Linked DNA regions of Homo sapiens. The protein of the gene in region 2 purifies or fractionates together with the protein of the main gene of each other region. This does not show direct contact. Each region holds a gene or a part of one and is shown on either strand. Other genes may lie near its edges.

Region 1 (3,500 bases), on a different chromosome or scaffold from region 2:
ATCCTTCTCTGGCATCACTGACACCCTTCTACCCCTGTTCCAGCTTCATTCTAATTTTACTGTAGCAATTATCTTGTATTACTTATATTTATTTCCATTTTCTCTTTCCACTAGATTAAAATCTCCTTAAAGACATGGAATTTCTTTCTTTTCATCTTCCTTTTCTTTCATGTGGAGTTACGTGGCCCTACTACTTAGCATAATGGCTTTTCATTTGGTACTTAAAATTTGTTGAATAAATGGTCTTTTTCATGTTTAATAATTTTCTACTAGATACAATATAGAGTTGCATTACAAAGTTTATAACTAAAGTTTTTAGTACATGAGAAATGGAGTAAAGCAGAATTATTACAGAAGGAAGCATAAGAAGATTAGAATGGAAAGAATAAACCTCTTATCTGATGCACCAGCTAATAACAAAAATAATCTTTTATAGCTAGTAAGACCTTTAAAATCCCTCTGCTAAAAAATTCCCATGGCCTGGGATGCTAAGCTTTAGTGTGAACTGGTGGAACTGGAGCTGACTTTCTCATTCCAGTTGAGTGTTTTATACCAACACTAGTGGCAAGAGTTCCTCGAGTTATGGAGGCAAGAAAGCTATCAATCTGGATTAGGTCACTAATAAGACTGTTACGACAGAAAGAAACACCAAAAGCTCAGACTGCATTGAGGGTATGTATTCAGTTTAATTTTATATAAGCATTTACTGAGTTAGGCCCTGAGGATATAAAAATAAATAAAACATGGACTTTGCCCTCAGGAAGAGACAGCCATTTACAAAGGAAGATGGACAATGCTATACCGAAAAATAAAACCAACCAACCGAACAAAACCCAAAATTGCTACAACTAATTATTTCCATTGGTATCCAGCTCCTTTTATTTCTGGTCAAATTAAATATCTTTCAAGTAATAATAAATAAAGAATTAATATGCACTGTATCAGTACACTTGATAACATATCCAGGTGACACTGATTAACTGAGAAGGGCAGAGAATAGAGCAGTGCCATCGGAGCTGAGTTTTGCAGTAAGAGGAGAAAAAATACAGATGACCAAGGTAAGGACAGAGCATTTTAGAGAGAGGGAGCGGCATGTAAATAAGGACACATGTTCAGAGAACCTGGAGTACTCTGTTACACTGGAATCTAAGGTGTGAGGTGGACAATAGAGATAGAGCTCATATCAGACACCTGAAGTCAATGTATGCATATTAAGAAACTTAGTAAGTCAGAGAGGGAAATATTTTAGAAGATCACCAGGGCAGCACTGACAAAGGTAGACAGTATAATACCATAGATGACTCTTGAACAACAAAGGCTTGAACTGTGTTGAACTGCTTGAACTGGGAATTTTTTTTTTTAAGCAATTGCAGATGGAAAACAGAATAGTCATAGGATGTGAAACCCTGCATACAGAGGGCCCACTGTGAGGCCTGAGCTGCACAGATTTTGGTATGGAATGGGGGTTCCTGGAACCAATCCCCTGAGTATATCAAGGGAAGACTGCACTTAAAAGGCAAATATGGTTAAGTCTAGACAAGAGATGATAAAGGGTTGAAGAAACAGGTTAGCAGTAGAGATGAATAAGAAATGACATTTGAAAGACATTTAGGGGATAAAACTGACACAATCTAGTAACTGCCTGGAGGGCAACAGAGTACTGGGGTGGGGAGGAGAAAGTAGACAAGAGGGAGAAGAAAGAGACGTTTCTGGCTTTTATGGCTAGTAGATGATGATGTCTACCAAGATAGAGAAGATGTTAGCTAAAAGCTTTAACAAAGAAAGAGGAAATCTACTACAACCATTACAGTCATAGAAATATAATAGCTATTTTTAAATTCAGAGGAAACATTTAAGAAAAAAACCTAAAAATTACATACTTACAATGTTTTATCTAATTACTAAAACATGAATGTGGCTACAACTTATTTAAGACAGGTATGACTTACCCTAGCCAAGAGCTCAAATTCTGGAGCAAAATTCTGGCAAGGTCCACACCAAGGAGCATAGAAATCAATCACCCAATGATTTTTCCCTTGTAGAACTTTTTCACTGAAAGTCTGAGGTGTTAGATCTGTGGATACTTGAGGTAAAAATCTGTGGCAAATGATCAAAATCATTTTTCATTATATAAAACCAAAGCAAACATATGAAATGCAATAATATTGTAATACTTTCTAAGTTAAAAATGATGTCAAGGAAGGGCAATGTAATAAAGTACAGTACTATCTTGGTTAATATAATACTTTACTAAGTAATTTAAAATGCTAGAACCTTAACCCACAGTAAATTTAACTATTGATATAAAAGGGGGGTAAATGGCTTTGAATCTATTTTATACAATGATATATATTTTAATTACTCACCCTAGACCCCAGATTCTCAGGGAATAAGCATCCCTATTCCAACCATTGTAACTGCTGAGAGAAGAAAAAATGTTAGTTGTAAATAGGATTCTCTATTATTGGATGTATTCAGAAAACAATCTTATTGTAGCAATTTAAAAAATAAGTTATATTGATTGATTTCATCTGGTATCTCTCTTCTCAAATATACCTAGCTACAAATTCTGGTTATAAGGCCTCACAAATGTATTTTTCTCTAGTCTTGGTATCTTTGTGCCCCAGACAGCCCAGAATGTCTAGCTGTCTACTGGACATCTCCTGTAGACCTATGGGAATTGCGAAACTCAGAATGTCCAAGGGTTTTAGTTTCTGAATCTTTATTCAAGTTATTACTGTCTGTCAAATTCCTACCCATTTTTAAAGACACATGTCAAAAACTACCTACAAAATGCAGCCTTTCATAATTTCCTCATAGTTGTGACCCTTTCCTCTCTTGAAATCCATGGTTCATTTTTACTTGTTTAATAACATTCATCATATGTACCTTACATTTGAGTTTTCTACCTGAAATACCACGTGGTGTTGTGGAAACAGCATGGGTGCTGAGACAGACTTGGGTTCAAACCTCAACTTCAACTTAGCAGCTGTGTGACTTGGGGAAGTTATCTAAGCCTTAGATAACTCCTAGACCTTGGATTCTAAGGTCTGAGAATCACAGTTTACTTCTCTGTAATAGTAGGAAGGGTAGTAATTCCTAGTTCACAGAGCATATGTGAGGATTATTGGAAATAAGGTGAGTAAAGTATCTAATATAGTACCTGAAACCAAATAAGGTGTTTAAGGACTTAATAAATGTTAGCTCTTCCTTTCCTTATCTTTTTGTCTAGACTATAAGCTTTATGCACAGTGAGACTGTTCAATACTCCCTTTTCATCTTCTGAAATGTTCATTAACAAACTATCTTTACGTAGTGGGCTCCCAATAAATATTTGTTGGGTTAACTTTTATTTTGTTCAGGTAACTTAACTGTTAAGTGTATAATTAAATAATTATAATAAATGTCTTCAAATATGAGAGAATACTTACTGATAATGATAAGCTTTATTTGATTTTGGGGGAAAAAATCTTATCTCAGGGTATCTTTGAACGTTTTCC
Region 2 (3,500 bases):
AGCCACAAGGGGGAAATGATACTCAATTTGATTACAACTAAAGCTAAGCTTTCATTAGATGTGAGTGTTATGGTCTCAATGTGTGTGCCCTTGCCATTTGTATGCTGAAATCCTAACTCCTAAGGCATTAGGAAGGTGATTATGTCATGAGGGCAGATCTTTCATGAATAGGATTAGTGCCCTTATAAAAGAGGCCTGAGAGAGATTTCTTGCCCCTTCCCTGTAAGGACGCAGCAAAGAAGGTGCTGTCATTGGATCAGGAAGTGGGCCCTCAGCAGACACTGAATCTGCTGGTGCTTTGAACATGGACTTCCCAGCCCCCAGAAATGTCAGAAATAAAATTCCGTTGTTTATAATTCCCCCAGTCGGTAGTATTTTGTTTTAGCATCCTGAGCAAACTAAGTGGGTTAATGAATACAGATCTTCATATATCCAAAAGCACCCAATAAATTAGAATTAGATTAGATATTCATCAGGGGGAAAAAAACTGTTCTAGACTATGCCTTCGTCACACATTTTTGTTTGCCAACCTTGGAATATCTCCAAGGCTAACAGAAAAATGTCCAGCAGCCCCAGCCCCTCCTCACCTGAGGAGTTATCTCTCTGGGTTGCCATCTTCATCATCCACAGCTTTTCTTCTCTCTCTAACTGTGGTAGGCCATCTGGTGTGGACTGATGCCCTGTGAAAAGGCAAGGACATAGGTTTATAATTAATACATCAGAAGCCAAAATTACTCAAAATTATTGTCCTCATTTCATCGTCTTCAGGACATCAAACTTAGTGTTTTCCACACTTCTAATCATGACCCATTGGAGGAAGTATATTTCATGCAAAGACCCAAGATATGCAGATATAAGTATAAATTACTGGGAAAAAAAATGTTTTCATCATACCCCCTCCATTGTCTCTCACATTCTTCTTGGCAACAGGACATAGTTTTTGCTGCAATGTGCAGTTATTGCCAAGTGCTCTGACATTTTCTACCCCATTTTATTTCATTAAAAAAACCAATGGTACAATTCATCAAATGTATATCAGGACCCACTAACTGGAGATGACCACAATTTGAGAAAGGATAAAAGTGTATAGTTGTCATGCTGTCAATTTATGGTTCATTAACAAAATACACACTTTTGCCAGGGGAGAAAGACTTTAAAAATTCCATATCTGTCTTATGATGGATGATTAGAAAACTGAAAACCAGTTCAAGAGCTCCAAAGCCCTGTATACCCAAGGACAGAGAGACAACAGAGGGAGCCAATGTTCAGTCAGAGAATGCCTGTCCTCACCCACTGAGACCACATTCCTGAAGTTCTCCAGCATCACATCTCGGTACAGCTTCCTCTGGGCAAGGTCCAGCAGTTGCAGCTCCTCCTCAGAGAAGACCACAGCCACGTCCTTGAATGTCACTGCCTCCTACAACATCAAACACACTCCACCTAAATCTTGCAATAAAGGTCCACTGGAAAAGGGATAGCACTGAGAAATGTGAAAAAGATGTGTAGGGAAAGGTGTCAGATTCTTAAGAGACCATATTCAACTTTATTACAGTTAAACACATATAAAGTGTATTATATTTTAGGTTTTTCCTTTTCATAATAAATGCTGTAAAGAACAACTTTTTGCATAGATATTACCCACCTATTTTCTTAGGTAAGTTCCAAGAAGTGAAAAATCACAATGTCAAAGAATATGCAACTTCCAAATTATGATGTACGACAGATTTTCTTTTCAATTTTTCCCTGTCTTATCCTTCCCCCAAGATAAAGTATCATTGATTTTCCATACCATAGATAACACTGAATATAACCAATTTTTAAAAAATCCTAGGCAATCTGTTCATTAAGAAACAACTGGGTTTTTTGGTCTGTAATTAACTAGTAAGATCATATTTTCGTATATTTACTGGACATCTTTATTTTTCTTTGGTATCTCACCTGTTACTGTCCTTTTATTGATATTCCATTTAGAATTTTATCTTATAACTCTGTAAAATTTCTAGTGATGATTTTAAGTCGTTTTTTAGCATATACGTTGTTGTTCACCTACATTTTGCTGGTGTTTTATAGCTTTGTGTTCAGGAGTGTTTCTTAAACTCAACACTATTGCTGTCTTGGGCGGGATAGTTGTCTGCTGTGTGGGGGTGTCTAGGGCACTGTAGGGCATTTTGCAGCACCCTTAGCTTCTACCTACTAGATGCTGGTAGCACCCCCGACCTGTGGTACCAGGAATGTTTCCAGATGTTGCCGGGTGGGGGGGGGGGGCAGTGGGCGGTAAAGTCACCCATGATAAAGAAGCACTAGCATATCGTATTGGTTTTTTTTTTTTTTTTTTTGAGACAGAGCCTTGCTCTGTTCCCCAGGCTGGAGTGCAGTGGTACGATCTTAGCTCACTGCAATCTCCGCCTCCTGGGTTCAAGTGATTCTTGTGCCTCAGCCTCCCGAGAAGCTGGGAATACAGGCGTGCGCCACTATGCCAGGCTAATTTTTGTATTTTTAGTACAGATGGGGTTTAGCCATGTTTGTCCAGGCTGGTCTCGAACTCCTGACCTCAAGTTATCCACCTGTCTCGGCCTCAGAAACTGCTGGGATTACAGGTGTGAGCCACTGTGCTCGGCCAGCATTATCATACTGTTTTAACTTTTCATATGAAGACTGTTCATCCCTGGAGCCCTGCACATTCAGGTACCCTAAATGAATGACAGTGGTCATAGAGAAGAAGAGGCCACTGGAGAGTGAATCGAGTAGGGGCAGTATTAGCTGAGGCATCTTCCACTAACCAGGACAAGCTAGGCACCCACACAAAAAGGGCCAGGTCCACTAAGTGGAGAATTCTTTTTCTTTGCCTCTCTCTCTTCAGTCAAGTAAAAATCCTGGAGTCTTTTGAAATCAGTTGGATCTTTGGTATCCTATGTGAAACTAAGCAACTTTCCACAATTCTACAGTCTTGTTTCTTTGTAATTAAAATGCACATGAGACCAAGGACTGCCTCATAAAGTTGGTTTGAGGAATAAATACAGTAAGAGAAGTATCTGGTAAGTCCTCTTGTACTGCTAGACTTTTAAAATTAAGTACATTATTACTTCAATAAAATAAGTTAACATAAGAGTAAAAGAATACGGATCAGTAAGTAAACATACATAGGGTATAACTCAGGCCTGGGTAAGAAAAATCTAGCTTTCTTTTGTGGAAATATCTAATAATATTTTCTCTAAAATCAGTGGCATCATGTCACACGATGTCATATCTGAATCATTGACATAGGAACTACCCAAAGTACCACATATCAAAAGTACTTTTTCAATATAGTGTTTCTATAACATTAAAAGTAAATAATAGCAAAACTCCTTCAAATTGCTTTTTGGAAAAAATGGTTATTTGTGGGAAAACTGTAGTAACAATTTTCAGTAAAAATTCTAAACTACCTAAACATTGATGAATGAGGAGAAAAGTTATCTCACATACACACCACAGAGTAACATCAATTCAAGGGACTATAA

What was found. The genes of interacting proteins can lie anywhere in the genome.
Region 1: the proteins of ZNF45 (region 2) and DNAJC10 purify together in Homo sapiens (co-immunoprecipitation; one large-scale study listed by IntAct). This does not show direct contact.

What each region holds. Positions count from the first base shown.
Region 1 is NC_000002.12:182,757,757-182,761,256, reverse strand, and holds part of DNAJC10 (dnaJ homolog subfamily C member 10 isoform 1 precursor), read right to left. Parts: coding exon 3,432-3,500; intron 2,421-3,431; coding exon 2,367-2,420; intron 2,098-2,366; coding exon 1,950-2,097; intron 1-1,949. UniProt on the Homo sapiens protein: Endoplasmic reticulum disulfide reductase involved both in the correct folding of proteins and degradation of misfolded proteins.
Region 2 is NC_000019.10:43,918,283-43,921,782, forward strand, and holds part of ZNF45 (zinc finger protein 45), read right to left. Parts: intron 1,481-3,500; exon of another isoform or gene 1,418-1,480; coding exon 1,291-1,417; intron 681-1,290; coding exon 588-680; intron 1-587. UniProt on the Homo sapiens protein: May be involved in transcriptional regulation.